3 separate regions of the Homo sapiens genome follow, and regions 1 and 2 are each linked to region 3. The links come from fine-mapping of genetic effects on gene expression. A gene starts in region 3. Each other region holds a variant in brackets. All regions are shown on one strand. Distances are between the middles of the regions. Region 1 overlaps ATP6V1C2 (ATPase H+ transporting V1 subunit C2). Region 2 has its middle 12 kb from the start of PDIA6. Region 3 holds the start of ATP6V1C2 (ATPase H+ transporting V1 subunit C2).

Region 1 (8,164 bases), 64 kb after region 3:
AAAAACTCAGCGAAAATAGTAACAATCTTGATAAACCAGATTTTTGCCTCTCCTTTAGTGGAGAAAAACGGCCGAGCTGGGTTTTAGACAAACGCCTTGGAGTCCGAATGTTCAGTCCAACTACCTGCATTCAACTTGAGCATGCACCGTGGAATGGCCATTCATGGCCAGAGGGATGACCTCTTTTGCTCTATAGTTGAAAACTAGCTATCAGAAGGGGGTTAGCAAATTCTAGAGCTTTTTCTATCCAGAGATCACCGCTGACCCTAGGCATTTTGCTCGAGTTTGACTTTATGAAGCTGTGTTGGTTGAAGCTTTTCACCCTCGGAATGTACTGTTTCTGGTCAGGTTCCTTCTATCCGTGTTTGCATTTGGAGCAGTGAACTGACACATTTTGTCTATCTGAAAAGGTATGGACTACCAGTGAACTTCCAGGCAGTGCTCCTGCAGCCGCATAAGAAGTCATCCACCAAGCGTTTAAGAGAGGTTCTAAACTCTGTCTTCCGACATCTGGATGAAGTAGCCGCTACAAGTATACTGGATGTAGGTATCCAGAAACAGCAGTATTTCTACAGTAAGCTCAGCATCTTACTTTCAAAAAACTGGTATCTGCCTGTAATCCCAACACTTTGGGAGGTAGGTGGATCACTTGAGGTCAAGGGTTTGAGACCAGCCTAGCCAACATGGTAAGACCCTGTCTCTACTAAAAAAAAAATTGGGCTGGGCATAGTGGCTCACGCCTGTAATCCCAGCACTTCAGGAGGCCAAGGCGGGTGGATCACGAAGTCAAGAGATGGAGACCAACCTGGCCAACATGGTGAAACCCTGTCTCTACTAAAAATACAAAAATTAGCTGGGTATGGTGGTGTGTGCCTGTAGTCTCAGCTACTTGGGAGGTTGAGGCAGGAGAATCGCTTGAACCTGGGAGGCGGAGGTTGCAGTGAGCTGAGATCACGCCACTACACTCCAGCCTGGCGACAGAACAAGACTCTGTCTCAAAAAAAAAAAAAAAAAAAAAAAAAAAAAAAAAATTTGCCAGGAGTGGTGGTGCATGCCTGTAATCCCAGCTACTTGGGAGTCTGAGGCAGGCAGTGAGCTGAGTCCAGCCTGGGTGACAGAAACTGTCTCAAAAACAAAACAAAGCAAAACTATCTGTCAGCCTGTTATGAAAATCTACATGTCATACACATTAAAGCACAGCAAGGAGAGGGTTGGAGGGGTGGACCACAGCTACGCAGAGCAGAACGTACGCTCAGTGCCTGGCGAGCTTCCTCAAAACTAAAAGGATAAGACAGGAAACTAGTTTATGCACTTAGAGCATTACCATGTCTTCTTTTGTAGGCATCTGTGGAGATCCCGGGACTGCAACTCAATAACCAAGACTATTTTCCTTATGTCTACTTCCATATTGACCTTAGTCTTCTTGACTAGAAAGGCCAGCTGGCACCTCTGTCTCATGTTCGTGCAGATTATTACAGACACCTCTTTCCTTTAGCCAGAGAATGGTTCAAATGTCTTACAGAACTAAGATCTTTTTCAGAGAAATTGCTCACAAAAGTTAGTGACAGTTGTATTTATTTTTTTAAGTTACAATAAAATGCTCTCAAGTCCTTTGAATGTTCCAACAAATTCAAAACTTCATTTTCTGAATGTTTTACATAAATGCGAACTACCTGTTCGCATTGGTAACCTGCTGCTGTATTTCATGTCTTAACGGCTATTTTGAGGTTCATTAACAACATAGAAAGCCTTGAACTGTATAACCAGCTAGATTCCTTAATAATTAGTCACTAGAGACAGCCCAAAGACAAATATTGGGCAGGAAATCAGTTCTCACTGAGCCCGGTTTCCATGTAAAATCTCTGTTGTGGTGGGCATAGGTGGCACCATCTAAAGAAAAGAGGTCTTGTTTTTTGTTTAAAAAAGTTTGTGGGGAGGAAAGACATCTGTGTATCACTTCAAAATATTGATTTACTGCTAAACATCACTCTGAATTTATGATGTGGATACTAACTTCATACATTTATCGGCATTGTCCAAAATATTTTATTCTTTAATGGAAAAAGCCATTAATATTCAAATGAAGGGATCACATTAAAAAAAACCCATACATAAGAAACAGCCTCCAAGAACATTCAAGCAGCAGTCAGAGAGAAAAATGTTTCGACAGCCAAGTTTTCTTCAAAATATTATGTGACAGAATACGACTCAATTCACCGGCTACAACAATTCATAGAATTTTTCAATGTTTTCTTGAGATGCAAAAGTTCACTGTTGCAGTGTTTTCAAATGACCAATCAAGTACTACTTCTTGGTTAAAAGGCCACTGGTAGAGTCATCTGAGTGTAGAGAATGTCCCTTCACTGCTGGAAAAATCCACTGGCTCCCAAGAAAAGAAAATGGTCTGAAGCCTCTGTTGTGGCTCTCACAACTCATCTTTCCCTAAGTCATCAAGCTCCACATCACTGAGGTCAATGTCATCCTCCACGGGAAGCTGGGAGACGACAGAAAGCCACTGTTAGATCTGCAGAAGGGGACACCCTGGAAGGTCAACATCTCATTTTATGGAAGAGCGACTCTCTGGAGCTACTCCTGCTACAATCCAGGTTCTCCTCAGTCTGACTCCTACCCTGACCTTCGTACCTATGATTATACGGATGGAAAAGCTCAGAACTCAGGTGAAACATTTCAACATCACATCACTCACCATTTTAACACTGGAAGCCACTTGAACGTGTCCTTTTGAGGAGGGTGGGACACAACAGTACAGAAATAAGTGCTAATTTCAAAGCTATCATTTTCTATTTTTCTAAGATAAAGTAAATGAATTCCAGGTTAAATGTTCACTTTAAGGTAATAATCAGGAAAGCAACCTTACTACTGAAATGTATCTTGGCTGTCAAGAGTATCAAATGCCATGCAGCACTTAAACTTGTGATAAGGAAGATGAAGGGTCTTCAGAGAAGAACCTCTTAAAAGGCCCACGGGTGCACCAGGGCTGAGGTCTGATGGGAAGGACTTGACTCCAGGTGCAGAGATGCACAGGCTCAAGAGAGTAAACCAGGACTGCTGCCCGCACAGCTTCCCTCCCGGGCACTCACCTCGCCATCCCTGCCGTCCCAAGGCTCTCTCTCAACGATGGTAGGGAAAGCCCCGCCTCCTACAGGTGCCGTGGAGCCACGCCCAAAAGAGAGCTCCCTTAGGGAAAAATGACCAAAACACACACACACATTTACAATGGACTGCTGGTGCAGAAGAATAAACAACTTTAAAAATAACAGTCTGCCTACTTTGTTTATGCAGAGGCATTTCTTCTCTCTTGCTGCACTACATTCCTCAGAAACACCTTGAGGACATTATCTTTTTAATCACGGACAACATTACAACCAGATTCAACATTCCCAACTAAGCCCCCTGCATCAGATAAAGTCAGTTGCTATCAGTAAGCTTTTAAAAATAGCAGAGCATTTGCTGAAATACAAATTAAATACATAAATAATTATCAAAGTTGATCTAGAACATGGGCTGCCTGCGAGCTTTCTAAGACTGCTGTGAACCTGTACAGAGGGAGCATATCAGAAGTGAGGCGACTGGTTCCAGTGCGCTGGCAGAGAGCGGGGTGCGTATGTGCATAAACATCAGTACTTGAAACATACCAGACCTGGTGTAATCTGGCTGTTGGGAAACCAGAGCCAGAAATACTGTGGGCACAAATATTTAGAGTTCACCAAACAACTCATAGAATAATAGAGCTAGACTAACAATCTATGGCACCAATGGGCTAGAATAAGCAAACCTATTATTAGAAAAAAAAATTACAGGAGATATATTCACATTCTGACTTCATGATTTAATAAATACTACTCTATGACAATCACAAACTTAAGCAGTCCACAAACTTCTTTTTCTTTGAGACCAAGTCACACTCTTTTGCCCAGGCTGGAGTGCAGTGGTGTGATCTCAGCTCACTGCAACGTCCACCTCCTGGGTGTGCCTCAGCCTCCCTAGTAGCTAGGACTGCAGGCCTACAACACCACACCTGGCCTATTTTTTGTATTTTTAGTAGACATAAGGTCTCACCGTGGTGGCCAGCCTGGTCTCGAACTCCTGGCCTCAAGTGATCCGCCTGCCTCAGACTCCCAAAGTGTTGGAATTACAGGCGTGAGCCACCGCACCCAGCCCCACAAACTTAATGAAAACACCCCCTTGGCCAGGCGTGGTGGCTCACACCTGTAATCCCAGCATTTTGGGAGGCTGAGGTGGGTGGATCACTTGAGGTCAGGGGTTTGAGACCCGCCTGGCCAACCTGGTGAAAACCCATCTCTACTAAAAATACAAAAATTAGCTGGGCGTGGTGGCAGGCGCCTGTAATCCCAGCTACTCAGGAGGCTGAGGCAGGAGAATCACTTGAACCCGGGAGGTGGAGGTTGCAGTGAGCCGAGATCGTGCCAGCCCGGACGACACAGCAAGACTCTGTCTCGGGGGTGGGGGG[G/GA]AAAGAAAACACCCATTAACCATATTAACCAACTACAATGAGAGAGAGCTGGGAGGGAAGGAGCCACAGTCTGCCCCCCGCCGGCAGAGGCTGAAGCAGCTGATCTCACAGGGCTTCCTCCATGCCTCCCACTTCACTACTCAAGGCAGAGCTGTGACTGAGGCACCTGACTTTGGAGCCCCTACTCTCCACACAGCACACACACACGTCTCCACACAGCACACAAACTTCTGTGTCAAGTAGGAAGACTGGCAGCAAGAGCACTGCAGGCTTTCATGTACTGTTCTTCCTATTCATTATTCAACACAAGCCTCTCAACTACCTTTTGTGTGCTGAACATCTCTTATACAGCAGCTAAGAAATGAACGCGGAAGAAAGCAAGAATGGGAAATAAAACCTCTTTAGGTCAATGCCCTGTATTGCCTAAAAGATGATTAGGTGAGCTGAATAGCAGAGCAGAGTAGACAGCTCTGTATATTGGTTTTAGAACCTATCATGTTGTTTGCACATTGTTGGAGTAACTTAAGTACGCCCATTTTCAAATAAATAACTACATTCCAAAGCCAAGTGCCCAGAAATGGAAACCACATTTCCCCAAGGTCAAGATTACAATGCATATGAGGGTGAGGATGGACAGACAGGGCTGCCTCTAGCCCATATGAGACCTTTATGAGAATGAGAAAGAGCCCAGGGCCAGATGCACAGAATGGCACACAGGGCGGCCCGAGGGTAGCAATGCTTTCTCCTCATCCCGCAAGCAGAGTATTCCATGGAAAAAAGAACGAACAGGGAGACAATTTAAAAACTCTAATGTATAAACATTCAATTCTCTGGAATTAGTTTGCATTTTAAATTCCATTTATTACCTGGCTTATATATACCTAGTTCCAAATATAAACCTACAACAGAACCAAACAAACAGACAAAACAACAAACAACCTAAGAAAACAAATTACCTGAGAAACTCGTTGATGCCTTGCTCACTGAAGGAGCCTTTTAGCAGAGCAAATTTCATCTTGCGTGCATTGATGGCGGCCATGGCGGGGTACCCAAACCCTCCAATCCCCAACGCGGTCTCAAGTTCAGACTGGGCTCCAGCTTCTGTCCACAGCCACCTAGAAAACCAGACTGGTTTTTAGGGCAAATATGTCTTTTAAATTGCTTACGATCTAACTAGAAGATCTTAGAGAACAAAAGATCACGCTTCAGATATTTCGTAGAATGACAAATAAAAACAAAAGATGAGTTTCTATATGGATTTTCCCTTTTTACCTGAAATCCCACCAATATCATTTGGGTTATTAAGCATGTTCTCGCGTTCTGTAGGCATCTAATAAACATTTGCTGGACTAATGGAGGAGGAGCAAGGTCATCGAGAGAGGGACAACAGGGGGCGCTAGGTACCTGGGGAAAGCAATGGATACTGAGGACAAGAAGCAAAAAGATAAATAGGAAGGAGGCTGGGCACGGTGGCTCACGCCTGTGATCCCAGCACTTTGGGAGGCCAAGATAGGTGGATCACCTGAGGTCAGGAGTTCGAGACCAGCCTGACCAATATGGTGCAAACCCCATCTCTACTAAAATCACAAAAATTAGCCGGGCATGGTGGCGTGCGCCTGTAGTCCCAGCTACGCAGGAGGCTAAGGCAGGAGGATCTTTTGAACCCGGGAGGCGGAGGTTGCAGTAAGCCGAGATTGTGCCACTGCACTCCACCCTGGGCAAGAGAGTGAGACTCTGTCTCAAAAAAAAAAAAAAAGGATAAAATAGGAAAGAGATACACTGTTTTGAAAATGTGCCTAGATCCAGTCCTTAACTCAGAAGAGGAGAAGGAAACAATTCTATTTCCCCTTTCTCACCCAGCCTTCAAGTTCACAGTAGAATTCAGGTGCACTACTCCTTATGTGTCTGCCTGCTAACCTGGCACTCCAATCACCATGTAAAACATGATTCCTATGAGAAAAATGCATGCTGTGCTGACAGCCCTTCATTCCTTCTTTTCCTCCCATGATAAAGTTTTCACATCCTGAATAAAAACATATAGCAGAGCAGGCCGGGTGCGGTGGCTTACACCTGTAATCCCAGGACTTTGGGAGGTGGAGGCAGGTGGATCACTTGAGGTCAGGAGTTTTGAGACCAGCCTAGACAACATGGTGAAACCCTGACCCTACTAAAAATACAAAAATTAGCTGGGTGTGGTGGCGGGCGCCTATAATCCCAGCTACTTGGGAGGCTGAGGCAGGAGGGAAAAAAAAAAAAAACATATAGCAGAGCAAACATAGAACACAGCTTACAAAAACACGGGGGAACCACTCTCAAGAAAGCCTATAATCAGCTGTTCAGATGACACTCAGACAGTAAGCTCAGTAACTTACCCCCACATTTTCTTTTTGTATTTGTCTGCCAACTTCAGAAGAACTTCCAGATAAGAATTTCTGCCTGCAGCTCCTGATTTAAATAGACAAAGTTTTTTAAAGGTAAAGATAAAGGAGTCCATAAAATTAATCCATTTAGAAAGTATTCTCAGAGCATCTAGCATAGAACAGCTAAGGGAAATCATTTCCGTCTGTCTTACCAGTATCAAGGATATGGGGCAGCACAGCCACAACACAGAGCTGGTGCTCCTCACACGTCCTCTTGGCAATGTCCTCGTTGATAATCTGTGGGACCCAAAAGACAAGGGACAATCAGGAGGCTGCATGATACAACACCTAAAGGTAAGCTGGCAAACAAGACCTTCGCACCGTCACTTTCATTGAAAACATTTCTCCCACGACTACTTCCTCGTATGGAAACACCTGGAGGCATGTTCTCTAAGAGGAGATTTTTCTGCTACTGATTCTTAAGCCTGTGGAAGCTGTGGTGGTGGAGGTGGGGTGATTAGCACACATACAAACATCTCTGAAATCGCAATGCCTGGACACAGCCTGGCTCTGCCACTTACTTGTTTAAATAGATTATACTTACATGTATTATATGTCTTATATGTTTATACACACTTGAGGCTCTGTGCCTCAATTTCCCCATATATAAAATGGAGATTAAAAACAGTATCTACCTCTCAGTGTTCATGTGAGAATTAAATGAAAACAAAACAAAACAAAACAAAACTATACAAAGACACCAGAACGGTGCCTGTTACATGATTAGTACTTGATAAATGTTCTATTACTTTGAGAATGATAAGCAAGAGTGATTGAATACACTCTATCTTTAAGAAGCTCGTATTTCTGTTCAGTGTAATTATTCTAATGCTAAAAGTTATGAAAAGCAATTTATCAGACTTTTTTTCCATTTCAAAGTATAGAAACCACTTTAAAGAGAGTATCTTTAAGGGCATAAAATGAACAGTGTGTCACACTGCTTTAACATTCCTCACCATCAGCTAAAAAAGCTTTCTGGACTACAAGCAGTTGAAGTGGTTTACCTCAAGCAGCTCAGGAGGTGGGGCGTTATCAGAAAACAAATCAAGGGCCCGGGACACGATGTCGGATCTTGTCCGCCCACCGTCATAATCCACAGGAGACTCGCCTTTCTGAAATATCTTGATTGTAGGAAATCCTCTAATCTATTAAAAAAAGGTCAGAGGATAAAATCCAATTAACACTTAATGCAAAATAACACAATCTTTACAGTTTCTAAAACCACCTTATAGGTAATTTTTTTTTTTTTTTT
Region 2 (8,180 bases), 100 kb after region 3:
GGGAGGTGGTGTCTGATCTACAGAGGGCATGAAAAATTGATTAGGACCAGGTGTGTCATTTGTATAAGGTGTACATTTCTGGCAACCCCCACCCCAGTATTTTATTACAGGTGTGTTTTCAGTCTAAATTGTCATGTTGCCCATTTCTTTTTTACTGTACACGTGTTAACAAAGAAGGGGAAGATGGAGCTTCCATGGTGGACATGTCCAGCCCCCAGGTAGCCTCGTTTCTATAGATGTCATCGTTGGCATTCCCCTGTGTAAGTTTCTAGTTTTTCTAGTTGTCTTTGTTTATCTGTGTCTGTAGTTTGATTTTTCAGGCTATTCTTCGTTAGGAAAAAAATAATTTCTTGAGCTGTTTTTTGTTAGAAGGGAAGTTCTGTCGAGGACTCTTTTGTCCTCACTATCTGTCTAAATAATTTCTTTCTACCTCCTGTATCAGCGGCACCAGCTGGGGTGGCCCGAAGCCAGGGAGCTGGGCCAGTTCACTCACATGGCTGGAAGTCGGAGCTGATGTTGGCTGGGACCTCAACTGGGGCCAGTGGTCGGCACACCCACACAAGCTTCTCCCGGAGGTCTCTTCTCATGGATGCTGGGGGTATCTTCTCTCCTCTGGAAGCTGTGCTCTGAGAGTGAGCGTCCTAAGAGTCAGGAAGAGGAAGCTGCCACTTCAGGACCTGGGTTTGGAAACTGACCCTGGTTAAGCAGGTCGTTGGGCCCAGGACGAAGGGGAGGGGGGTGGATTCTACCTCCCAGTGAGGAGATGGCCACAGAATTTTCAGGTCGTGTTTTAAAACAGCCTTCGGAGATTTGGAATGCCCTCTTCTCACTTTTCTGTTGTTGAAATATTGCCCATCCTTTATGGCCCAGCTGAAATCCACCTCCTTCCTTCCCCCTCTCTTACCTCTCAGTTGAAATTAATCATGGCCTCATCAGCTCTTCCAAAGCTCACCCTCGTCTGTTGCTTCCAGTCTCTACCGTTGCACAGTAAGCCAGTGGAGGGCAAGATTCGGTTAATCAATTTTACCTGTGTGTAGGGAGTAACAGCGTGCCCCGACATAGGCAACAGGTACCCAGCATTTGAGTGTTAAAAAATGAATAATTGCTGTGAAGCCAAGGGGTAGAGGCAGGAGAAAGAGGGGTCAGAGGAGAGCAGTCCCCGATTTACCCAGGAGGCCTCTGGCTGTGTGGTTGGGTGTTGCCTTCTATTCAGCGGTATCTGAATTGATGCTGAGCAAACATCTAGAAAGAGGAAGCATTGTTGGAGAATTCGACAATTCAGCACTTCTCCTTCTATAGGGTTGTAAGTGTTTCTGTGAATTTAAAGATTCTATCCAAGGGCAATAATAAATGATTTTTTTTTTTGAGACAGGGTCTCATTCTGTCACCCAGACTGGAGTGCAGTGACGCAGTTATGGCTTGCTGCAGCCTTGACCCCCTAGGCTCAAGTGATCCCCCTGCCTCAGGCTCCCAAGTAATTGTGACCACAGGCACATGCTGCTATGCCCGGCTAATGTTTTATTTTTTGTAGAGACAGGACCTCACTATGTTACCCAGGCTGGTCTTGAACTCCTGGGCTCAAGTGATCCTCCCGCCTCAGCCTCTCAAAGTTTTGGGATTACAGGCTTGAGCCACCACACCCAGCCTTATATAAACGATTTTTAAAATTAAAAAAAAAATTTTTTTGAGACAGAGTCTGTTGCCCAGGCTGGAGTGCAGTGGTATGATCACGGCTTACTACAGCCTCAACCTCCTGGGCTCAAGTGATCCTCACACCTCAGCCTCCCGAGTAGCTGGGACTGCAAGCATGCACCACCATGCCTGGCTAATTTTTGTATTTTTGTAGAGATGGGGTTTCACCATGTTGTCCAGGCTTGTCTTGAACTCTTGGGCTCAAGTGATCAGCCTACCTCGGCCTGCTAGAGTGTTGAGATTACAGGCATGAGCTACTGCACCCAGCCATAAATGATTTTTATTTATTTATTTATTTATTTTGTTTTTTTGAGACAGAGTCTCGCTGTGTTGCCCAGGCTGGAGTGCAGTGGCGCGATCTAGGCTCACTGCAAGCTCCGCCTCCCGGGTTCATGCCATTCTCCTTCCTCAGCCTCCCGAGTAGCTGAGACTACAGGCGCCCGCCACGATGCCTGGCTAATTTTTTGTATTTTTAGTAGAGATGGAGTTTCACCCTGTTAGCCAGGATGGTCTCGATCTCCTGACCTCGTGATCCACCCGCCTCAGCCTCCCAAAGTGCTAGGATTACAGGCGTGAGCCACCGTGCCTGGCCTCATAAATGATTTTTAATGTAGCACTGCAAACAGGGATAAGTGGGCTCGTGCTCCTTAGTGGGACTCATTGATAAGGAGGCACTTAGTAGAGTGATAATATCTTCACCCTCTATACCATCTAATAAGTCAAACAGGTAGCTTGGGATCGGTGCAGTAGCATTTGGGTATATGTTCTGGCCTGGCTTTACTAAACAATTTGCAAGGCAAAGCTAAAACCAAAACATATGGTGGCCACTCCAAAAGTGAGGTCTGAGCCTTTGTTATGGCTGTTGCCTCTCTAGCAAGTCTGAGGAGACAAGCTGTGAGCGCAGCTTCCTGCGGACAAGACAAGGCCTCCCCTTTGTGAACCTCCCATGATGCCTGGTCTCCAGCTGCATCTTTGATATTGGCCATGGACAGTTTTTCTGTGCTGTATCCCCATGGCTTATCTGGGGCCAATCTTAGAGTACCCCAGTGTCTTCGGGGTGGTTTGTATAAATCCACTCAGGGACTAGATAGTGGTGGATCATTTGCTATGACTCCTTTCTCCAGAAGTAGAGGTGGCCTGGACAAATCACCTTGCTCATTTTTTCTTGTGTTTCAGAGGTTAGAGCTCAGATGCTAAAGAATCCAAGGGACAAATCCCAAGGGTGCAGTCTCATTGTCAGCAGCCAAGCTTTCCTGCCACAGAATGAAGCTCTCTCTTCTCCATCCACACTGGCATTTGCCACTTGGGATATAGCAGCTGCTTCTCAATTCTTTGTCAGGCCTCTAGCCTCTCACTGCTGCTAATTCATGGACTCCCAGGAGGTTACTTCTAAAACTTCTTCCAATCCTTGTTATGGCTCATATGAACTTCTGAATAAAGTGGGAGAGGGTTAAGAAGAAGGAAATAAATCTCTATTCAGTGCCTAGGTGCTCAGCGAACACTTTGTCATCTGTATCAATGACACCACCAATCCAATTGCTCAAGCCCCAAATCTCATTGGGTTCTCTTTCCATCACCAGCTCCCAACATTCTTTGGCAATTTCTGATAATTCGAGCACCAAAACATATTCAAAATCTGCTGACATTTTTCCCACTTTCTCACAATTGCCACCACCTTGGTTCCAAATGGCTATGTGGACTTTTGCAGTAGCCCCTTAGAGTCAACAATGTTAGTGCTGTACTGTAGTGGATGTTGTGGTGTGTAGCCCAGACCCACTTCAGGAGGGGACACTCACACCTCCAGTCATAGGGAGTGTTGACTGCTGTTGCTTCATGGCTCTGTCCTTCCATTGGCTAAAAAGAGCTGCTGTGCCCAAGGTTATACTCCCTC[C/T]CTGGGGGCAGCTTACATTCCATGACTGATAGATTTGGGGATACAAAGGACTGCCCTCCTTTTCTCAATTCGGGACAACCCTGAAGGCCCTTCCCAGCTTTAAGCTTCCCATGGGGGTCCACTGAGGCCCTTGTAAGCACCCACATCATGATTCAGCTTTATGATTTAGCTTCTCTTACCCAACCTTATTTTTGCCACCTCCTTGTTGGTGTCATTGCCAAGAGCACACTCCAGTAAACCTCCTGTAGGCAGATAGCCATCTCAGAGTCAAAAATGTTGGTTCCATACTGTAGTGGATGCTGTGGTATGTAGCCCAGACTCTGCTTCAGGAGGAGACACTCACACCTCCAGTCATGGGGAGTGTTGACTGCTGTTGCTTCATGGCTGTGTCCTTCCATTGGCTAAAAAGAGCTGCTGTGCCCAAGGTTATGCCCCATCCCTGGGGGCAGCTTACATTCCGTGATTACATGTCTGTGGCCGATGACACCTGTCGAGTGTTCTGCTGCCCCTCCCCATTGTGTAGCAACCCTGGGTGGATTCTAGCAGCGTTGTCCAGCTGGCAGAACTCTATCCCCCTTGCCACAGTTATTGGCTCAGGAAGGGGTTTGTCACCACAATAGCCACTAAGCCAAGTGGCCAGTGGCATTCACATGGCCACAGTGATTGTTCCAGGGTGAGCATGTGACATAAACCAATCAGAGTGAAGCTCTGGACTTTGGTCAATGGCTAGAAGAGTGGCATTTGCTTGGGCAGAAGCATGGATCCCTGTTGTCCCTGGAAACTACCCCACAAGATGAGGAAAACCCACGTGGGGATGAAGCTGAAGCGGGGCAGAGCTGAAACAGTCACGGAGAAATGGAGACAATACCTGATCAGTGTCTGAAGACTGTCCTTCAGCTGAACATTCCAGTTATTGAAATATGAAATCATCTTTATTGTTTAAGCAAGTTTGATTTGGGTTTCTAATTGGTCTTTCTATTTTCACTCTTGGTATCTGTGATGGTTAATATAGAGTGTCAACTTGATTGGATTGGAGGATGCAAAGTATTGATCCTGGGTGTGTCTGTGAGGGTGTTGCCAAAGGAGATTAACATTTGAGTCAGTGGGTTGGGAAAGGCAGACCCACCCTTAATCTGGGTGGGCACCAGCTAATCAGCTGCCAATACAGCTAGAATATGAAGCAGGTGGAAAAAAACGTGAAAAGGCCAGGCTGGCCTAGCCTCCTAGCCTACATCTTTCTCCCATGCTGGATGCTTCCTGCCCTCAAACATCAGACTCCAAGTTCTTCAGTTTTGGGACTTGGACTGGCTCTCCTTACTCCTCAGCCTGCAGATGGCCTATTTTTGGACCTTGCGATCATGTGAGTTAATATTTTAAAAACTCCTCTCTCTCTCTGTCTCTCTCTGTCTCTCTCTCTGTCTCTCTCTCTGTCTCTCTCTCTCTCTGTATATATATATCCTATTAGTTCTGTCCCTCTAGAGAATCCTGACTAATACGGTATCTTAAAATTCTTTTTCCACAAAGCAGACTCTTATGGATTCTTGAAAAAGTTTAAATTAGTTCACACTCCTCTCCCCTACTTAAAACTTTCCAATGGACAACAGAAGAGAAATAGACAATTTGGAATTCATCAAATTAAAACCTTTTGTGCTTCAAAGGGCACCATCAAGGAAGTGACAACACACAGTGTGGGATAAAATATTTGCAATGATATGTCTGGTAATGAACTAGTATCTAGAATGTATAAGGAATGATTACAACTCAATAATAAGAAGACAAAAGAACCAATTTAAAAATGCCCAAAGGATCTGAGTAGACATTTCTCCAAGGAAGACATAGAAACGGCCAATAAAGCACATGAAAAGATGCTCAGCGTCATTAGTTACCAGAGAAATGTCCATCAAAACCACAATGAGAAATAACTTCATACCCACTGGCTTGGCTAGAATCAAAGTCAGAGAATAACAAGTGTTGGTGAAGAGGTGGAGAAATTGGAACCCTCCAACACCGGCTTTTGGGAATGTAAAATGGTGCAACCACTTTAGAGAACAGTCCAACAGCTCCTCAAATAATTCAACAGTTACCATGTGATCCAGAAATTCCACTCCTAGGCATCTACCCAAGAAAATGAAACACATGTCCACACAAAACACATACAGGTATGTTTTAGCAACATTATTCATCATAATCAAAAGGCTGAAATAACTCAAATGTTCATCACCTGACGAATGGATGAACGAAAAGTGCCATGCTATACAACGGAAATATTATTCAGCTATTAAAAGGAAGGAAGCGCAGTGGCATGCCACGATATGGATTGACCTTGATGACATTATGCTAAGTGGAAGAAGCCAGACTCAAAATAACCACATGATTACTTTCATATTCAAGTTCGGAACTAGGAAGTCTATAGAGACAGAAAGTAGGTTTGTGGCTGTCTAGGGCTGGGAGTTGGGAGAGGACAGTTGCACATATCTATGAATTTACTAAAAACCATTGAATAATGGATTTTTTTTTTTATGGAGTCTCGCTCTTGTTGCCTAGGCTGGAGTGCAATGGCGCAGTCTTGGCTCACTGCAACTTCTGCCTCCTGGATTCAAGCCATTCTCCTGCCTCAGCCTCCCGAGTAGCTGGAATTACAGGCGCCTGCCACCACACCCGGCTAATTTTTGTATTTTTAGTAGAGAGGAGGTTTTGCCATGTTGGCCAGGCTGGTCTCAAACCCCTGACCTCAGGTGATCTGCTTGCCTCAGCCTCCCAAAGTGCTGGGATTACAGGCGTGAGCCGCTGTGCCAGGTCGAATTATACGCTTTAATTGGGTGAATCATATGGTGTGTGGATTATATCTCAATAAAACTGTTAAACAGACAGAACCTTTCCCAGTGGCTTCTTATAAGACATAGAAGAAAAATCTGCCCTCCTGAGCAGACCTTTAAGAGCCTGCCTCTGACGTCACCTCAAACCCCTCCCTCTTTCCCTCTGTTCATGGCAGTATTCTTTCATTTCCTCAGACACAACAGGCTGGTTCCTGCCTTCGGGCCTTGGCACGACCTGCTGCCTCCATCACTGCAGTCTCAGCTTATGTACCACCTCTTCAGGCTCTTCTCACACCAGGTGATCTGAAGTGACAGTGCCCCCGGGTGAGCAGTTCATCAAACTTGGTGTTTAGTTTCTCCTCAGAACTGATCAGAATTCATATGTGTCTGATTGATTGATTGATTGAGATGAAGTCTTGGTCTACTGCCCAGGCTGGAGTGCAATGGCACAGTCTCGGCTCACTGCAACCTCCGCCTCCCGGGTTTAAGCAATTTCCTGCCTCAACCTCCTGAGTAGCTGGGACTACAGTTATGCACCACCACACCTGGCTAATTTTTGTATTTTCAGTAGAGACGGGGTTTCACTATGTTGGCCAGGCTGGTCTCAAACTTCTGACCTCAGATGATCCGCCCTCCTCAGCCTCCCAAAGTGCTGGGATTACAGGTGTGAGCCACCGCACCCAGCCTTATTTACATATTTATTTGTTTATCATCTGTCTTCACTAGGATGAAGCCTCCATGAGGGAACAGAGGAGAACCTTCCTATGTGCTGGCAACATCTGTCTACAACAGTGTCTGCCACATACTAATAAAGTTTAGTGATTGAAAATTTAATGAAAGTGTAGGTTTTCAGAAGAAATATAAGGGCTGGATGTGGTGGCTCACACTTGTAATTCCAGCACTTTGGGAGGCTGAGGTGAGCAGATCACTTGAGGCCAGGAGTTCAAGACCAGCCTGGCCAACATGGTGAAACCTCGTCTCTACTAAAAATACAAAAATTAGTGGGATATGGAGGCACACACCTGTAATCCCAGCTACTCAGGTGGCTGAGGCAGGAGAATTACTTGAATCTGGGAGGCACAGGTTGCAGTGAGCCGAGATCACGCCACTGCACTCCAGCCTGGGTGACAGAGTACGACTCTGTCTCAAAAAAAAAAAAATTTTTTTTTTCTTGCAATTCTTTAGAACTAGAGTAAAAAAAAAGTTTGTGAAAGTTTAATCTTTTTATTTTTATTTTTTTAATGCAATGTAATAAAATTAATAGACTTCATTTAGTCTATTAGAGCAGTTTTAGGTTTACAGCAAAGTTGAGGGGGACAGTGAATTCCCCATAAAACCCCTCCCCCTGCCACACACACAGCCTTCCCCACTATCAACATCCCACACCGCAGCAGCCCGCATGTTTGTTACAATGAACCTACATTGACACCTCATTATCCCCCAGAGCCCACAGTTTACATTAGGGTTCACACTTGGTGTTGTGCATTCTATGGGTCTGGACAGATGGAGATGACACACATCTACTCTTATAGTATCAGACACAGTAGTTTCACTGTCCTAAAAATCCTCTGTGCTCCAACTATTCATTCCAACCTACCCCCAATTTGCTTTATCTGTATATCAATTTTTCAATTAAAATGTATCAGAAATTCAATGGGCAGGAAGTAGTTTCAGAGGGTGAGGAAGAGAAATAACAGGCTGCCGTTTGTCATTTCCCCTTTAAGAAGTGCAGAGTGTCGAGGCCATGGGCACAGCCTGGAGCACCCTGTTCCAGTAGGGTG
Region 3 (8,147 bases):
GCAGATTTCAGAAACTTTAAAGTTGTATAGGGAGGGGACAGAAAATGGGTTGCTAAATGGTGCTTCAGGTTGAAATATGGAAGAAAAATACTTTCCTTATACAGTGTAAATGCTAAATCATACTCTTTTAATATACCAAGGGAGCAGGCTCCAGAACTTTTTGTTGTTTTCTCCCTATTTATCTGTTAAAGGCTGATCTTTGTGAGAGAAAAACACAAGTTAGCTCAAAACTGGTAAGTACACATGTGGTTGCCTTTGAGAAATGCAAATCAAACAACCTCTTGGACAAGATTCCCGCCCGCCTTGCCACCTTTTCAAGATGTAAGTTGTTTAACAAGGCATCTTTATTTGGCTTCAGAATCTTACTCAAGTTCTGAGCTGTGGTAAACTCTGATGACATTGGATTATCCTTTACTGATAAGATACATTTGATAACTTTTTTGATCTTTAGAAAGCAAACAGCAGAATGCCAAGATTTATGAATAATATATAATCTCAATCATGCAAAGAAATCTGCATCTATACATGAATATGCATTAATGGTAATAAAGAATTTAAATGTTAACAGCAGCTAATTATAGAATTACAAGTAATTTTTATTTTCTTCCTTATACTTCTCTGTTTGCCAAATTCTTTTTAAAAAACAGAAATTTCAAGCTCATTCTTGTTGGAGAAAAGAAAAGGAGAGAATTACCTATATAAGCAGATAAAAAGTTATTTGAAAAATATCAAGCTACCCCTGCAGCAGTAGACATCATCCATTATAAATTCAGCTATGAAACAAGAAACTTAAGATGTGAAAGACCAGAAAGATTTTAGATTTTGAGTAGGAAGATTTTGAGGAAGACAAGGAACACTGTAGGTCCTTATTATTTTCTTAATCAGATGATGTCCAGAAGTTATTTGTGTGTTTTTGTTTTTGTTTTGTTTTGTTTTTTGTTTTTGGAGATGGAGTCTTGTTCTGTCACCCAGGCTGGAGTACAGTGGCATGGTCTCGACTCACTGTAACCTCTGCCTCTCAGGTTCAAGTGATTCTCGCGCCTCAGCCTCCCTAGCAGCTGAGACCGCAGGTGCGTACCACCATGTCCAGCTAGTTTTTTTTTTTTTTTTTGGGACGGAGTCTCGCTCTATCGCCCAGGCTGGAGTGCAGTGGCGCAATCTTGGCTCACTGCAACCTCCGCCTCCCGGGTTCACGCCATTCTCCTGCCTCAGCCTCCCGAGTAGCTGGGACTATAGGCGCCCGCCACCAAGCCCAGCTAATTTTTTTGTATTTTTAGTAGAGATGGGGTTTCACCGTGTTAGCCAGGATGGTCTTGATCTCCTGACCTCGTGATCCGCCTGCCTCGGCCTCCCAAAGTGCTGGGATTACAGGCGTGAGCCACCGTGCCCAGCCAGTTTTTGTATTTTTAGTAAAGATGGGGTTTCACCATGTTGGCCAGGCTGGTCTCAAAGTCCTGATCTCAAGTGAGCCACCCGCCTGGGCCTCCCAAAGTACTGGGATTACAGGCATGAGCCACCGTGCCTGGCCTATCCAGGAGTTATTTGTGTCTGACTCTCTTAATTCACAGAACAAAGTTTTGTTTTGTTTTGTTTGTTGTTGTTGTTGTTGTTTTGGTTTGGTTTGGTTTGGTTTGGATTGGGTTTTTTGTTTTCTTTTTTGAGATGGAGTTTCACTCTTGTTGCCCAGGCTGGAGTGCAATGGTGTGATATCGGCTCACTGCAACCTCTGCCTCTGGGTTCAAGCGATTCTCCTGCCACAGCCTCCCGAGTAGCTGGGATTAAGGCATGCGCCACCACACCCAGATAATTTTTTATTTTTAATAGAGACGGGGTTTCTCCATGTTGGTCAGGCTGGTCTCGAACTCCTGATCTCAGGTGACCTGCCCACCTGGCCTCTCAAAGTGCTGGGATTACAGGTGTAAGCCACCACACCTGGCACAAAACAAAGTATTTACAGGTAACCAGGTGTATAGAAAGAGTGGTGCCACGAGCCAGGTCACAGATACTTCTAAATGTGTTGCTCAGTCTCTGAGAAGCCAGGTCCATGGCTTTGAACCTTGCAGATGGGAAAATGTGGACTAAAATAGAAAGCATGTGTTCTTCCTCACCCTGATTATCTAGTCCTGCAGGCTTGTTGGGAGCAGTAGAAAGGACATAAGACTCAGCCACAGGCCCGAGTTCCAACTGTAGCTCTGACATAACCAGCTGTGTGACACTGGGCAATTCACGTAACTTCTGTGGGCATCTCCACCCTTGTTTGCAGATGAGATCTGCCCCCAGCTCTAAGATGTTTTCCCTGGCTGGATAAAATGTCGTGCCTGGATAACGTCCAAGATTGGAGACCACCCCGCTTTAATGTCTAACTGGGCCACTCCTTCCCTGGAATAGCCACTTAATGTCCTCAAACATACCGGAGTTTCCCCATCCCTTGGTTTCAGGTATCCTCCCTCAGGAAGATGTTGCAAGGACTGACTAATGCACATTAGTGTCCCAATAACGATGCCTGCTGCAGGTGCTGGGACTTCCAAGTCTAACCTAGGCTGGCAGTACGACCCCACTGTGATCTTAAAGCCACCTTTCTGTCCCGTCTCTGGGGCTTCCCATCCCACCCTATGTGATTACAGCTTAAGTCTCAGATGATGTCAAATCCTTCTGCCAAAGACCCTGATGCATTCACAAGAATGGGTTGATAGATAAGGCTAGTTTACACAGGAGGGGGAGTCCACGTTTAAGGAAGCAAGAACACCGTCTCCAATGCCCCCTCGAAGGACACTCTTGAGATCTTCATCTTTCCCAGAAACCACTGAAAACATCGCCCACATGGAAGGATGCTTTAAAGCCTTCTCCTTCGGTCCAGAGAAAATGAATTCTCCGAGTTTTCCTTTGGTTTTGTCTTGTTTTTAACCTTCACACGTTAATTTCCAGGGTTTCCCCCTCCTGGTTCCAGACAGCACCGATCATGAACTCATCTCTGATCGTCGTACGGTGAGTTGTAACCGCCCCCCCACCCCCCATCCACAGGGCAATTCGGAAGGTGGAGAGGGTGAGGTGGGAGTTTCCTGGGCAACCGGGCGCACACCCGCGCCCACACGGACAGGAAAAGCTTCGCTGTCTACGCAGGTGCGTCCCGAGCACCTGCGCACCTGTTGCGCGGCTCCCCACAGGTGGGCCCTGTCTCTTGCACTGGCCTGGAGACACCTGGGAGTAGGTGATTCCCCTGAGATCCGCGCATGTCTCTGTGAGGCGAGAGTGGGTGGGCAAGCGGGGCTGCGGCGGCCGCAGCGGGAGGGCGGGGTGGTCCCGAGCTCAGAGCCTTTTCCCGACTCCCACCCGGCTCAGCCGTCCACGCGTCCCGGACGCGGCAGCGCAGTCGTGCGGCAGGAGACCCCGTGGGACGCGCCGCAGAAGCCCCCAGGGCCCCGGCCCTCGCGCGTAGGGGACTGGAGACCCTGCGCGTCTCCTCCGCGCCTTCCTGCCCGGCGCCTGCACCTGCTCCCCGGCTCTCGGGCCCCTGGCTGGAGCGAGGCGGGAGGCGGACGGCCCGTATGCAAATATCCTGCGGGGCCGGGGCCGCCTCCAGAGCCCGGGATAAAAGGCGGGGCGGGGCGCGGGGCAGCGAAGCCGCTGCCTCCCGGGAGCCGGCAGAGCGCTCCGGCCCCGCACCCGCCGCCCGTCGCCCGCAGCCCCCTACCGCGCGGCCCGCGCCCCGCCGGCTCCCGGTAAGGACGCACCGCGGAGCGGGGACCCGAGGCAGGGGCGGGGTGGGGACACAGGCACGGGGTCCGGCTGCGCACCAGCCTGCGCTTTCCCATTGGAAACGTGGGCAGCGTGCACCTCCGCGCGCTTCCCCGCGGCCGGGCTGGTAGCATCTCCGCAGGTGCTGCGGCGGGCCAGTTCGTCCCCAGGCCATGGGCAGTCAAGGCGGAAAGGAGCTGCGTTGGGTCTGCGCGGGGTTAGGAGAGAACAAAATGCCCTCGGATTGGAGCGGGACCGGGAGTCCGAAAGGAAGAGGTTCCACCAGGGGTCTCTGGCTCCTCAGAGCTTATCCTGCTTTCCCCCAGCCGTCCGGAGACGCCGCGGGGAGGCAAGCGGAAAGGGGGAACCTGGCCGAGGGGGAAAGGTGCGGGTGTGGACACCTGTGAAGGAGCAGCACGAATCGAATCGGCCGTAGAGGCTGCAGACGCGGCCGCGAAACCACCGGCCACGCCGGGCAAGGGACCCAGCACTGCTGAGCGGGCACCTCGCCTAGTGGAAAAAAGACTTTAGTAGTTCCCCTCACCCCCTACTACTTTTTTTTTTCTTATTTAAAAAAATCCTCTGAAGTCTATTTTTAAAGCTAATACCAATCACAAGGTTGGCCAGTTTGACCTGCGGTTTGACCTGGTAGCCTGTTGTGAAAATCCCTTCCTCATCCCACGCCTTCCTCCACCCCATCCTGCATCCCAGAAGATGCAGTGTGGAAGGAAGACAAATATTCCCCCAGAAGGTGTCCGCCTCCAGCTTACTGTCCTCCCGTTTTATGATGCCTGATAGGGGTTGTTCACTGAGGTGGAGAGAAAGAAAGGAACCTCTCCCTCCTCCTCTGCTCCTGAAAACCAGCCAGAACCACTGCAGGGACCAAGGAGCTTTGGAGTTTCGGGAACACCTGAGGGCTGCCCAGGTGGAGATAAGAGCTTTGCTTTTGCAAATGGATGTCCTTGGAGCTCATCCTAGAAAGGATGAATTGGAGGGTAGGGAGTGGTGAGGCGGGGATATCTGACACATCTCTCCTTCTGTTTCTGTTTGTGTATGTTTGTCCTGGTTCTGGGCAGTCACTGGGTAAGAGAAGACTGGAAGCATGTCGGAGTTTTGGTTAATTTCTGCCCCTGGCGATAAGGAAAATTTGCAAGCTCTGGAGAGGATGAATACTGTAACCTCCAAGTCCAACCTGTCTTATAATACCAAATTCGCTATTCCTGACTTCAAGGTAAAATTCTTGGGGAGGAGTGAAAAAGGGATGGATTGGTCAGGGGGAGACAGGAGAGGGAGACAGGTTGCTACCTCAGGAAGCCAAGGAGAAAGTATCAAGGCAAAGCAGGGGCTCTGAGGACAAGCTGAGGTTTGAGGATGGACGGGGAGGTGATGGGCTAGGTGGGATATCATGCCATAGTCCCAAATAAATTGTGATACCTATGTAGATGCAGCCACAGGAAGGAATGAACAGGGGGACAAGGTTGTGGGTAGCAGTGTCTAATGCTTCAAAAAGTGGGAAGCACGTTAAATGCACACTCAGGTTCTCTTGGGTGTTCCTCTGGCTCCTCCTGGTTTGTCTGCAACATCTCAGAAGACCCACCATATAGTTTAGATGTGCAGGCTTGGGGGGCTTCAGCCTTGATTGTACTCTTGACCTGGGGGCAGGGGAGGAAATCTAGGATCCCTTTGGTCCTGAGGGAGGGGAAGGGAGGGAATTTGGTGACAGAAGAGAGTTTGGGTCATGCCCAGGCATCTAAGGGTTCTTGGAGTGGAGGGCAAAGTTCAAACGAAACCAACATTAAGGAAGAATGAGGCCAGGCGCGGTGGCTCACGCCTGTAATCCCAGCACTTTGGGAGGCCGAGGTGGGTGGATCATGAGGTCAGGAGATCGAGACCATCCTGGCTAACACGGTGAAACCCCGTCTCTACTAAAAAATACAAAAAAATAGCCAGGCATGGTGGCGAGCGCCTGTAGTCCTAGCTACTCGGGAGGCTGAGGCAGGAGAATGGTGTGAATCCGGGAGGTGGAGCTTGCAGTGAGCCGAGATTGCGCCACTGCACTCCAGCCTGGGTGAACGGCGAGACTCTGTCTCAAAAAAAAAAAAAAAAAAAGAATGAGACATGTGCAATTTTTTTCCCCCCGAGTAGCTGGGATTACAGGCGTGTGCCACCATGCCCGGCTAATTTTTGTATTATTAGTAGAGATGGGGTTTCACCATGTTGGGCAGGCTGGTCTCAAACTCCTGCCCTCAGGTGATCCACCTGCCTCGGCCTCCCAAAGTGCTGGGATTACAGGAGTGAGCCACCACGCCTGGCCACACAATTATTTTACTTCAAAAAGAGTGGACTTACCGTGGTGCTTTCTGAGGCTGTAGGTTTCCACGGGGAAGACACTACAGCTTTCTCCCAGACCACATGGCACAGGTGCTGGTGAGATGGCACTGACTGCCCAGCATCTGCTCTTGTAGAAAACTGCCATATACTCCCTTTTCAAACCTCACTTTGCCCCTCCGCCCAAACAGCTGCCCCATCAGCTACCAGGGTTGTAATGCTACCCCATTTGCTAACGTTTGTTGAGCAAAGAGCTGACGGCTAGATACTTGAAATGCATCACCGGGAAGCTGACTCTGGGGACAGGCTGGGAGAGGCTAAGTGTTGTCAGGCTGGTAAGTGGCAGCAGTGGGTTCTGAAACCACATCTTGCTGCCTTTTTAAGCCTGCCTCTGCTTGTCCAGCAATGGACACTGTACGGGTGAGTAAATTCTGCATCCACTCATTGATACTGTGTGTGAGGCACTGTGCTGGACTCTGGAAGGTAAAAAGATAAAAAAAGAAGACACAGCCCCTGCAGAAGTTGCTTAAAATTAAGTTACTTGAGAAGAAGCGACTTGTCTTGGTAGAGATATTCAGGCTTCATCATTTCCTAATTACTTTTTTTTTTTTTTTTTGGTTGGAGCCTCGCTCTGTCACCCAGGCTGGAATGCCGTGGTGCAATCTAGGCTCACTGCAACCTCCGCCTCCTGGGTTCAAGTGATTCTCCTGCCTCAGCCTCCCCAGTAGCTGGGATTACAGGCACATGCCACCATGCCTGGCTAGTTTTTGTATTTTTAGTAGAGACGGGGTGTCACCAGGTTGACCAGTTTGGTCTCAAACCTTCGGCCTCCCAAAGTGTTGAGATTACAGGTGTGAGCCACTGTGCCCAGCCTCCTAATTATTTTTCTTAATTTTTTTTTTCTTGAAATTCTGCCAAATCTCAGAACCTAATTACTTTTTAACATCTAGTTGGTGGTACCACATGATAGCAACCCTTTTCTTTCTGATTCTGTGAAAAGACCTTTAAATACAATTTTGGACATTGTAGTAATTTCTACACTAAGAAATAGATCATGGCCAGGCACGGTGGCTCACTCCCGTAATCCCAGCCCTTTGGGAGGTCGAAGTGGGAAGATCACTTGAGGTCAGGAGTTTGAGACCAGCATGGACAACATGACCAAACCCCATCTCTACTAAAAATATAAAAAAATAAGCCAGGCGTGGGGCACATGCCTGTAATACCAGCTATTTGGGAGGCTGAGGCAGAAGAATCACTTGAACCTGGGAGGTGGAGGTTGCAGTGAGCCGAGATCTCAAAAAATAAAAAACAACAACAACAAAAAAAACAGATCATAAGTTCTCTGAAAAGAAAAGGACCTAGGTGAATGATGAAGTGGGAGGAAAGGAAAAGCTGCCTCCTTCCCCAGCAAGAATTTTTTTTTTTTTTTTTTTTTTTGAGATGCAGTCTCGCTCTGCTGACCAGGCTGGAGTGCAGTGGTGCGATCTTGGCTCACTGCAACCTCCACCTCCGAGGTTCAAATGATTTTCCTGCCTCAGACTCCCAAGTAGCTTGGATTACGGGCACATGCCACCATGCCCGGCTAATTTTTGTATTTTTAGTAGAGACAGGGTTTTGCCATATTGGCCAGGCTGGTCTCAAACTCCTGAACTCAGGTGATCTGCCCACCTTGGCCTCAAGATCATGGTTAATAACAGCAAAGAACAGAGAAAAAGACGGTGGGGCCGGGTGCAGTGGCTTGAGCCTGTAATTCCAGCACTTTGGGAGGCCAAGGCAGGCAGATCACCTGAAGTCGGGAGTTCGAGACCAGCCTGACCAACATGGAGAAACCCTGTCTCTACTAAAAATAAAAAATTAGCCGTGCATGATGGTGCATACCTGTAATCCCAGCTACCTAGGAAGGCTGAGGCAGGAGAATCACTTGAATCCAGGAGGCGGAGGTTGAGGTGAGCCGAGATCGTGCCATTTCACTCCAGCCTGGGCAACAAGAGCGAAACTCCATCTCAAAAACAACAACAAAAAACACAACTGATGGGACTGTCTTGGAGCAGAAAAGCTTTTAGGAATGAGAACTTCTTTAACTT

What was found. PIP is the estimated chance that this variant, and not a neighbour inherited with it, causes the effect.
Region 1: its variant is the best candidate, but not a certain one, in a credible set for the expression of ATP6V1C2 in visceral fat (GTEx, PIP 0.79).
Region 2: its variant is the best candidate, but not a certain one, in a credible set for the expression of ATP6V1C2 in lung (TOPMed, PIP 0.59).

What each region holds. Positions count from the first base shown.
Region 1 is chr2:10,781,833-10,789,996 of GRCh38, forward strand. ATP6V1C2 (ATPase H+ transporting V1 subunit C2) reads left to right here. Exons shown (of 14, transcript NM_001039362.2): 13 at 411-543; 14 at 1,342-3,278. The coding sequence ends at 1,431. It overlaps PDIA6 (protein disulfide isomerase family A member 6), which reads right to left. Exons shown (of 13, transcript NM_005742.4): 8 at 7,917-8,057; 9 at 7,065-7,149; 10 at 6,865-6,937; 11 at 5,449-5,607; 12 at 3,102-3,198; 13 at 1,559-2,494. The coding sequence ends at 2,426. Among named protein-coding and RNA genes, the nearest start is that of PDIA6, 27 kb to the right of the region's middle. The variant G/GA (reference allele first, on the strand shown) is at 4,493.
Region 2 is chr2:10,820,278-10,828,457 of GRCh38, forward strand. It overlaps a transcript of PDIA6 not described here. Among named protein-coding and RNA genes, the nearest start is that of PDIA6, 12 kb to the left of the region's middle. RefSeq lists an enhancer at 1-635. The variant C/T (reference allele first, on the strand shown) is at 3,584.
Region 3 is chr2:10,718,013-10,726,159 of GRCh38, forward strand. ATP6V1C2 (ATPase H+ transporting V1 subunit C2) reads left to right here and starts at 3,618. Exons shown (of 14, transcript NM_001039362.2): 1 at 3,618-3,719; 2 at 4,812-4,966. The coding sequence starts at 4,838.